Homo sapiens: one gene and its partner. The protein of the gene in region 2 purifies or fractionates together with the protein of the main gene of each other region. This does not show direct contact. Each region holds a gene or a part of one and is shown on either strand. Other genes may lie near its edges.

The links.
Region 1: the proteins of FGF8 (region 2) and CWC22 purify together in Homo sapiens (co-immunoprecipitation; 3 studies listed by BioGRID and IntAct, with this or other methods). This does not show direct contact.

The regions. Positions count from the first base shown.
Region 1 is NC_000002.12:179,972,511-179,977,345, reverse strand, and holds part of CWC22 (pre-mRNA-splicing factor CWC22 homolog), read left to right. Parts: intron 1-3,543; coding exon 3,544-3,712; intron 3,713-4,099; coding exon 4,100-4,153; intron 4,154-4,835. UniProt on the Homo sapiens protein: Required for pre-mRNA splicing as component of the spliceosome. As a component of the minor spliceosome, involved in the splicing of U12-type introns in pre-mRNAs. Promotes exon-junction complex (EJC) assembly.
Region 2 is NC_000010.11:101,768,639-101,774,340, reverse strand, and holds the end of FGF8 (fibroblast growth factor 8 isoform F precursor), read left to right. Parts: intron 1-2,764; exon of another isoform or gene 2,765-2,771; coding exon 2,772-2,878; intron 2,879-3,644; exon of another isoform or gene 3,645-3,721; coding exon 3,722-4,012; 3' UTR 4,013-4,232; downstream 4,233-5,702. UniProt on the Homo sapiens protein: Plays an important role in the regulation of embryonic development, cell proliferation, cell differentiation and cell migration. Required for normal brain, eye, ear and limb development during embryogenesis.

The DNA of each region.
Region 1 (4,835 bases), on a different chromosome or scaffold from region 2:
TTATTCACAACAGACACTTTAGTTGTTTCCATATTTTCACCATTGTGAATAATGCTGCAATAAATGTGGGAGTGCAGATACCTCTTCAACATACTGATCTCATTTTCTTTGTATATATACCCAATAGTGGGATTGCTGGATCAAATGGTAGTTACAATAAAAAAAAATTTTTTTTATATTGATTTATTTTAGAGATGGGGGTCTTGCTTTATTGTCAGGCCGGAGTACAGTGCATGGTCATAGTTCACTGCCCCCTTGAATTGCTGGGCTCAAGGAATTCTCTCACCTCAGCATCCTAAGTAGCTGGGACCGCAAGCACTCACCACCACACTGGGCTAATTTTTTAATATTTTGTAGAGAATGAGGTCTTGCCATCTTGCCCAGGCTGGTCTCGTACTCTTGAGCTCAAGCAGTCCTCCCGACTTGGCTTCCCAAAGTGTTGGTATGACAGGCGTGAGCCACCGCACCTGGCTGGTAATTCTGTTTTTAATATTTTAAGGAACCTCTATACTATTTTCATAATGGCTGTACTAATTTATATTTCTACCAACAGTGTACAAGCATTCTCTTTTCTCCATGTCCTTGGCAACACTTGCTATTTTTCATCTTTTTTATTACAGCCATTGTAACAGTTGTGAGATGTCTCATTGTGGTTTTAATTTGTATTTCTTTGATAATTGGTGAGGTTTAGCATTTCATATATATATATATGCTATTTGTACATCTTTTGAAAAATGTCTGTTCTTGTTTGCTCATTTTTTAGATTGGGTTATTTGTTTTCTTACTATTGAGTTGAATGCCTAATGTGTTTTGGATATTAACCCCTTATCAGGTGTATGTTTGCAAATGTTTTCTCCCATTCTGTAGGTCATCTCTTCACTCTGTTGATATTTTCCTGTGCTGTGCAGAAGCATTCTAGTTTTATGTAATCCCATTTGTCTCTTTTTGCTTTTGTTGCCTGTGCTTTAGGGGTCATATCCAAAAAATCATTAACCATACCAGTGTCTCAGAGCTTTTCCTTTGTATTTTTCTTTTAGAAACTTATAGTAGTTTCACAGTTTCAGGTCTAATGTTTAAGTCTTTAATCTGTTTTGCGTTGATGTTTGTATATGCTGTGGGACTAAGGTCTATTTTCATTCTTCTGCATCTGGGTATTCTGTTTTCTTGGCACCATTTATTGAAGACACTGTCTTTTCCCTATTGTGTCTTCTTAGCATCTTTGTCGAAAATCAGTTGACTGCCAATGTCTGGATTTATCTCTGGTTTCTTTGTTCTCTGTAGCTCTATGTGTCTGTTTTTATACTATTGTCATTCTGTTTTGATTACTATAACTTTGTAGCAGATTCCAGGTCAGGGAGTGTGATGCCTCCAGCTTTGTTCTTTTTGTTCAAGATTGCTGTGGCTATTTGGAGTTTTTTGTGGTTCCATGTGAGTTTTAGGATTGTTTTTTCTATTTCTGTGAAAAACGTAACTGGAATTTTGATAGGGATTGAGTCCAGTCTGTATGTTGCTTTGGGTACTGTGGACATTTTAACATATTATTTCAGTCCATGGACATGGGATGTCATGCATGTTCTTCCATTTTTTCATCAGCAATTTGTAGTTTTTAGTGTACAGCTCTTTCATCTCCATGGTTAGATTTATTCCTAACTTTTTTTTTCATAGCTATTGTAAATGGGATGTTTTCTTGATTTTTCAGAAAGATAGTTCATTGTAAGCATATGGAAGCACTACTGATTTTTGTATGTTGATTTTGTGTCTGCAGCTTTACTAAATTAGTTTATTAGTTCTAACAATTTTTTGGTTAAGTCTTTAGGGTTTTCTATATTAAGATCCTGTTTACAGCAAACAGGCTTCTCTATTTTTGATTTGGATACCTTTTATTTCTTTCTCTTGCCTAATGGCTCTGGCTAGGACTTCTAGTACTATGTTGAATAGAATTGGAAAGAGTAGGCACCCTTTTCTTATTCCTGATCCTAGAGGAAAAGCTTTCAGCTTGTCACCGTTGAGTATATTAGCTATGGGTTCGTCATATATGGCCTTTATTCCAATTTAATTTCTAGTGAGAGTGAAATGGGAATGTGAGAGAAATGGGAAAGATGAGCAATACATTTTAGAAAAGCAGAAGGGAATCACCGTATTCTATAAGAATATGTGGCTTTAAGCAATTGGTGATATTTAAAAGGGTCAGAAAATAGAATTACTCCATGTTGTATTTATTATTTTAAAATCTGAGGGCTGTTTTCTCATGTCATTTTACATGACTATGATTCATCTTTAAAAAAATATGGAATGTAGTGGCCAGGCACGGTCGCTGTAATCCTAGCCTGTAATCCTAGCACTTTGGGAGCCTGAGGCAAGAGGACCACTTGAGTCCAGGAGTTGCCTGGGCAACATTGTGAAAACCTGTCTCTATGAAAAATACAAAAATTAGCTGGGCGTGGTGGCACACAGTAGTCCCAGCTCCTCCGGAGGCTGAGGTGGGAGGATTGCTTGAGCCCAGGAGGCAGAGCTTCCAGTGAGCCAAGATCGCCCCACTGCACTCCTGCCTGGGTGACAGAGTGAGACCCTGTCTCTCCCCAACCTCTCCAAAAAAGGTGGGGGTATAAAGTAGGAGCAGCAAGTTTTAGAGGTAGAGAAAGTTGATCAAGAGACAGCCATTATCCTCAAAAGTGGGCAGAGATCTCTCCAATTTACTTAGAAAAAAAGTAGACTTAGAAGAGTTATGGATTGCTAAAGATACTATAATTTATAAGCTGCATCCTTTTTCTTATTTTCCACTCTAGTGATTCAGTTGTCATATCTAAAACTACCATTAAGACTTTTTTTCCTGACTTTTGGCAATCCAATAATTACTTGTCATTACATTGCTAAAAGTAACTTTAGTTTGCCCAATTTGCCTTTCCCCTTCCTCATCAAATGCATATAGAAACATGACCATTTTCAAAATGAGTTACAAGTAGGTACCTTTTAATTTCCTGTTACTGTTTTAGCATTAATCTGGCATTGCTTTTAATTCGTTTCTTTATTTCTCACAGGAGTATTCCACATCTTCATTTTATTCTACTAAAATTAGACTTAAAGATTTAAACCCAAATTTGTCTTTAATCACAAAATTAATTTTATAAAAATGACAGATCTGTAGTAGAAACTTTATGTTATCTACCTTTTATACTTTTGAAGCAGGTCTGCTTTTGTTTACTTTTTAAAAAATGTTAAAGAAATTATTTATATGAACCTTTTTAAGGTTCAAATTCATGATTAGATATAACAGACTGGGAAAAGAGGAATTATATGTAGAGAGAAAAATTTTGGTGATAAATTGCAGTAAAATCTTCATTCTATTTTACAAAATCACAAATTCACATTTCGTTTTCTGAAAAACAATTTTTATTTATTAGTAAGACAAACTCTTTCCAGTTAGTTCTGATTTAGATTTTATGATTACTTATAGAGAAATATTACTGAATTTTAATAGTTTTTGTTTCGTTTAATTAATTTGGTGATTATTGTTGACTCCTTTTTAAATTCTTTTTTAAACAGAGGACTGCTGTCCAGGTCTGTTTTGCAAGCACAGAGTGCTTCTCCAATCTTCACCCATGTTTATGCAGCATTAGTGGCAATTATCAACTCAAAATTTCCACAAATTGGAGAATTAATCCTCAAAAGGTTAATTCTTAATTTTCGAAAAGGCTATCGAAGAAATGACAAGGTATATATGAATGGCTTGTAAGTAGAATGATACATAGGAACAAACTAACAAACCAGTATCAACAAAAGTAAGCAAGGTTGATTTTGACACAGCTACATAACATAATGCTTTTTAAAAACTGTCTTTCATGAGAACTTCTTTGATCTGTTAAATATCCCTGGCCACTATTGATGAGCCACAAAAATGATGGCTATAACTGTAGAACTATAACTATTTAACCAGAAGGGATACTCTTTCATGTGTTTTATTTTGTAACTTTCTTATAATGTAAAAATTATACTTGTGTGGTACATGTTTTAAATAGATGATGTTAGTAGGCCATAGATTATGTAAATAAATGAAAATTGGGTTTAGTTTATAGGTTAACTTTCCACCTTTATTTTTCAGCAACTTTGCCTGACTGCTTCAAAATTTGTGGCGCATCTTATTAACCAAAATGTGGTAAGTAATTATCTTCAATACTTGGTCCCATTCAGTGGCATTAGACCAGAGGGTTGATGCCACTTCACTGATACCTCTCTATTTTTGCTTTGCTTTATAGTCCTTGGGATAAAAATGTTGGATGATATTTTCATTTTAAAACTATAATAAATATATTTAATGTTCTTTTTTTTTTTCTTTTTTTGAGATGGAGTCTCACTCTGTCGCCCAGGCTGGAGTGCAGTGGCACAATCTTGGCTCACTGCAAGCTCTGCCTCCTGGGTTCACACCATTCTCCTGCCTCAGCCTCCCGAGTAGCTGGGACTACGGGCACCTGCCACCACGCCCGGCTAGTTTTTTTTGTATTTTTAGTAGAGACGGGGTTTCACCATGTTAGCCAGGATGGTCTCGATCTCCTGAACTCGTGATCCACCAGCCTCGGCCTCCCAAAGTGTTGAGATTACAGGTGTGAGCCACCACGCCTGGCCATATTTAATATTCTTTAATATAACACTTTGATGCTGATCAAAACACTTTAGATATTTATCAAATTAATCTGACTTAATACTGTACATGGTTACTTGACTGCAAACCATTCCTTTGAAGAACCATTCCCTTCATTTTTATAAAACAATAAAGTTGGTATCTCCTCCACTTCATTCCCTGCTGTTCATGAGAATCTAATAAATATCTGATATTCTAC
Region 2 (5,702 bases):
CTCCCAGTTGGAAAAGGAGGTTGCTGGGAACCCTTAAATACTTTAATCGGATGGGTCAATTTACACGTGGAAACTGGGCTTGGAAGGGGGCTCTCCCTGCTCCATTCCCTGGGGAACCCAGGCGGCTGGGGCAGGGCTCCCGGCTCCCTGTGGGGTGGCAAGTGCGGAGAGCTACTGCCGGCAGAGAGGCTGAGGACTGATTGATTTCTAAAACATTCAATATTCCTGCCTTGAAACGGGGCCAATTTCCAGAGTCCTGGATGTACCAAGAGAAAAGCAAGCCCTCTGGGCGGCTGGTGTTGTTTTTAGAGAGCGATTATTGTGAGTTTAAAAACCTTTAAATAATGACCACGTTAAACAAGCATGAAAGGAGAGGGGAAGACTCTATTAAAATGTAATAAAAAGGTGAGGCATTTTAAGAGCTAAGAAGAAAAATGAAGAATGATATAAAACAGAAAAAGAACGAGCTTTTTTTCAGATGTGGAGTTTGAAAGGAGTTGCAAGTCTGTAAATGTTAAAAAAGAGGTTCAAGATTGTTCTCTCTGAATCTCTGGAGAGACCCCTGCGTCTGGCAGAGCGATTAAAACTCTTCTTACTTTCACCTTTTTTAACATTTCCTGAATACTTTCTCCTCTTCTTGAGCCAGTTTGGGGGATCGAGTATGTCTCGCTGCATTTTTTCTGCATCGACGTAGCTGACTTCCCTTCAAAGCTGGAGGAGACATAATTTTCCTGGGATAAATCTGTCACTGGGGTGGAAGAATAGGTTTGAAAATGTTAAGCTTTCCAAAAGCCCGGTCGGGAGAGCTGCCGTAAACTGCGGCCCCAGCTCCCCAGATCGGAGCAGATTCAACCGACATGGGAGAGAGCGGGCTTTCTGGGGTGGGGGTGGGGGCGGCCTGCCTGGTGGCCGAGCTCCCCTACTGGGCTGGCAGAGCAGGCCTACCATCCCTTTGTCCCTCCAAATTAGCTGCTTGCTGCCCTTCTCAGCTTCTAAGGAGAGGAGACGAATGCCTGGCTCTTCCAGGGTTTGCTCTGTCAGAGCAAATGGCCCAGCATCCTTGGATTTCGGGGAGGGAAGCAGAAGTCAAGCTGGTGTGGGGGAATTCATCTTCAGACATCAGAGGAAGCCTGATGTCCACTTCTCTCCGTGGCCATATAAGAGGTTTCCCGCCTTCCCTAGTCCCTGCCCCACAGCAGGATAGGAGCTGGAGGCCCTAAGAACAGAGGCTCAGGGTGTTCAGCCAGGACAGGAGTAGTCCGGGGAGAATAGCAGAGAGGTCTCAATGGCTTCTTTACCGGCCCCAGGAAGATGCAGAGGCACCTACTTCATCCCTGCCTGCCGCATCTGGCCAGAATCCCCAGAGTGGCATCCTCTCACTCCTCCAGTCAGCATCCTTCCTGGCCCTTAAAAATAGCTGCCTCTTGCTGTGGAAGGCAGAGCGGGAGAGGGATGAGCAGACTGGCTAGGTCCAGGAGGAGGTGGGCAGGCAGGGAGGTGACAGCTGCATTTCCCTGCTGACTTGGGGCCAAACCGGGGGCTTGGCCACTGGTCCCAGCACTGAGCCTGTGTGAAGCGGGGAACATTACAAGCTGAGCAGTGATGACTGACTTGCTGACCTCGATGCCCCAAACCCCTGCCATGGGTTTCAGGGACAGAGGAGGTGCCATATGTCAATGCAGGCTAAGTCCAAGAACTGCTTTCTCAGGGAGGGGAGAGGCTGGGCTCTGCGGCAGGGACGGCAGGAGAGCCAGCGCCTTCTGTCCCTTCCTAAACAGTGAAGTCACCCTCACTACTTTCTTGAGGACAGCCTATAAGAGATGATTGCACAGAGAGGTGAACAGGACAGGCTTCTGTGGCAAGTTGGCTGTCTAAGGGGAGGGGAATGGGAAAGGAGGCATAGAATTCAGCCCTGCCTCCTGGCCTCCAGTCTAAGAGGCCAGCAGGCAGGATTCTCCCTCCTCCTCACCCACAGAAGCTATTTGGTCACTGGGCTGAGAAGCCCAGCTGTGATGAGGCTGAAAGAGAAAAGACAATTGAGTTGTTGATTTCTAGACACTGGGCTGGGGACCCTGGTGACTGGGAAGCCACAGGGAAGAGGCAGGATCCTCCTGGCAGGTGTCTGAGGTTCTGGGAAAGCAGCCTGCTTTGGGCTGTGTGTTTAGGGAGAGCTGTCCCCATCCCTAGCACCTTCTCAGCAGAGCAGAGCCTGGTGATGTTGAGGGGCTGGGGGTGGCCAAAGCTGTGAGTTAGAACCCAAAGTGGCAGAAACAGGAGACAATGCTTTCATCTTTGGCCTTGGGACTGGAGGTCACCCCTTCACCCAAGTGTTTGTAATGACCTGTGAGACACGCACACATAATATTTGGAGTTGGAAGGATCCTCGGAGATCTTTTGATTAGCTATGGAACTCTGATTCAATTAAATTTTACTTAGATCCTCAATCTAAGAGACATCACTGTCTGGTTTAAAAAGAGGGTGGAAGGAATGGCACTTCAGCCTTTTCAATTTGATAGTCCCAAGACCTCTCTTGAGAACCCAGTTTGAAAACCATAATCCCGTCCACTGCCCTCTGTAAACCCAGGGGTGGGGCCCGAGGTCCAGAAAAGCCCTTTCTCTGGGTTGCACAGCATGTTAGTAGCTGGGCTGGAGCTGGAGTCCATGTTTTGGGTTCCTGGTCTTTGGAGCAGTTGCTGCTGGGCTGTGACAAGTGTGTGGGCCAGCTGGGGTCAGGGATCTGCCAATAGCCATCCTGCTACCTTCTCTGACAGCAAAGCTCATCGTGGAGACGGACACCTTTGGAAGCAGAGTTCGAGTCCGAGGAGCCGAGACGGGCCTCTACATCTGCATGAACAAGAAGGGGAAGCTGATCGCCAAGGTGAGGCCCCAGCAGGCAGGTGGGGTCCGCGGGACCTAGGGAGTGGCTTGGGCTGGCTGGACTCCTCCAAGACAGTCCTGGGCTCTGATCCCAACAAGGTAGGCAGAAGGCCACAGGGCCATCTTGGGGTTACCTCACGATTGGGTGCAGGAGTGAGGGAGAAGGAAGCTGTTTGAGAGATGAAAACTATAAAAGGCGAAGGAGGAAGAATGAAGGCTAGGGAAGGGGCTGGGGGGTGGTGGTTGGTAAATTCCATATATCTTTTTAACAAATCGCCAAATTGCTTTGCTATTATGTCCAATTACATGGTACCAGCATTTGGAATGTTCAGTAAGCCGCAGGCCCAGCCCCTCGGCCGAGCTCTGAAATGGCTCCATTAGTCACGGCTCCTCTCCAGCCTCGAGCTCCCCACTTCCTGGGCTTCTGGGGCTGGGGTCTTAGCATCTTCTCCCAGGCCTCCCCTCCCCCATAGGGTGGCTGCCCTGGGGCCAGGGAACCGAAGTCCTGGGGGGGTGAGAGGGGCAGGTGGGGAGACGGGTGGCCAGACTGGTGGGCAGGAGGCCAGAGCAGGCCAGGCTCTGGGCCCCTCTCTCTGTCTTTCTGCGTTGGGGCCCAGCCCCTCCGTAGACAACCATGTGTCACTGCTGCCTGGGAGGACAGGAAGTTGCCGGGTGGGCTGCGAGTTGTGAGGGATTAGAGAGCGGGTGCCCAGGCAGGGGGTGGGGCTGCGGCTCCTGCCCACCTCGCCATCTGCTGGGGTGCCCACCTGCTGTCTGGGGCCGCTCGCCCTCTGCCTCTGCTGGGGGGGCTCTGTAACGTGGTGTCTGGCTCCCCTACCTGCAGAGCAACGGCAAAGGCAAGGACTGCGTCTTCACGGAGATTGTGCTGGAGAACAACTACACAGCGCTGCAGAATGCCAAGTACGAGGGCTGGTACATGGCCTTCACCCGCAAGGGCCGGCCCCGCAAGGGCTCCAAGACGCGGCAGCACCAGCGTGAGGTCCACTTCATGAAGCGGCTGCCCCGGGGCCACCACACCACCGAGCAGAGCCTGCGCTTCGAGTTCCTCAACTACCCGCCCTTCACGCGCAGCCTGCGCGGCAGCCAGAGGACTTGGGCCCCCGAGCCCCGATAGGTGCTGCCTGGCCCTCCCCACAATGCCAGACCGCAGAGAGGCTCATCCTGTAGGGCACCCAAAACTCAAGCAAGATGAGCTGTGCGCTGCTCTGCAGGCTGGGGAGGTGCTGGGGGAGCCCTGGGTTCCGGTTGTTGATATTGTTTGCTGTTGGGTTTTTGCTGTTTTTTTTTTTTTTTTTTTTTTTAAAACAAAAGAGAGGCTCTATTTTTGTATTCCACTTGGCTGTGGTGTCTGTCTTCTTAACTCTCAGAAAGCTCCATTAGTGGCCTAGACTGGGATTCCGGCTGGGGGTTTGCGGGGGTGGGGGGCTTTCTCTAGCCTGTGCTGCTGAGGCCCCAGTACCTCCAGGGCCAGTTGGCTGGGCAGCCAGGGACTCCACTGCACCCCCAGGTGGGGCAGGGAGGAAAGGACTGTGACATAGGGCAGTCCTCTTAGAAGTGGGTATCAGACTGGTGGCTATTAAATGATTGAAATATTTATTTAACTTGCATATTAAAAATGTGTGCTGGAGAGTGAGTCCTGCCGGGGTCAGCCCCTCCCTCCAACCTTGCCCCAGCTGGTGGGCGGCTGGGAGACGCAGATGACCAGGTGCCAGCTCTGACCACAGCCTCCCTCCAGCCTAAAGACACCTGCCTGTCAACCATCCCCATCACTGTCACTTGAGGGGTTTTCCTGCAAGGACAGAAGCAGGGAAAGGGGCAAGAAGAGGCTCTTAGCTAGTCCTTGGAGCTCTCAGATGTGTACCTCCTAGCACTTTACAGAGGTCATTGCTAACACTTCCCCAGGCCACCTCAGGGCCAGAAATAATGGATGTGCTAGGGCTAGAGCTGTAATCATGGATTTAATCCTCTTAAAAAGTGCTTCTCTGAGTGCCTAGGTCCATGTGGGAGACAGGTTGGAGATTCCAGAACTTGCTCTTTCTGAGACTCAGGCTCCAGAAAATGAAAGAAAAGAGCAGCTGCCAGGGTCCAAGGTGGGGGCATATTGGAGGGGGACCACCAAGACTGGTGTTGACAATGGTGATGTGGGACAAGTGTTAACCTTGGGTGATATGGTGAGATAGCTGTGGGCAGAAAGCACTGAGCTGAGGTGCGGTGAGGAGCCTGGGGAACTGTCTTCCAGGAAGAGGCTGCCCACCTCGGAGGATGGGCCTGGCGGGAGAGGAGCTGGGCACCGGATGGCACCAGAAGGGAAGCTCATAGGCCTAGCGCAGAACTAAAGGCAGTCATAGCCTTGGGGAGAAGCAGGAGGCCGTATGTGGAGGGAGGGAGGGCTGCTGTGGGAGTGGTGGAGCAGGTCATGGTGTGGGCAGAGAAGGGAATGGGCAAGGGTGCAGGTGTGTGTTTGCGTGTGGACTGGTGAGACTGGTGTCCTGCCACACCGAGGGAGAGCCCAGGCCCCACGGCAGTTTCCTGAGTGCAGAGCTGGCCCAGGCTTCATCGCTGAGGCCTCCCATTAGGGCTGCTCCTGCTTCCTTCCTTGTGGATGCCCTGGGCTGGTCCCACAGCCCAGCTACTGAGCCAGTCTAGAAACCTCGCTCCTCTAGGACTCTGTCCATTGGCATCTCCTGGGGTAGGGAGCAACCCAAGGCTTCCTCCCACAGTTTCAGGCCCAAGTCCCAGGTTTAGCCCACCCCGGCAGATCAGGAATTTCGAGGCTTAGTGGGAAGCCCGGCAGTAAAGGCTGG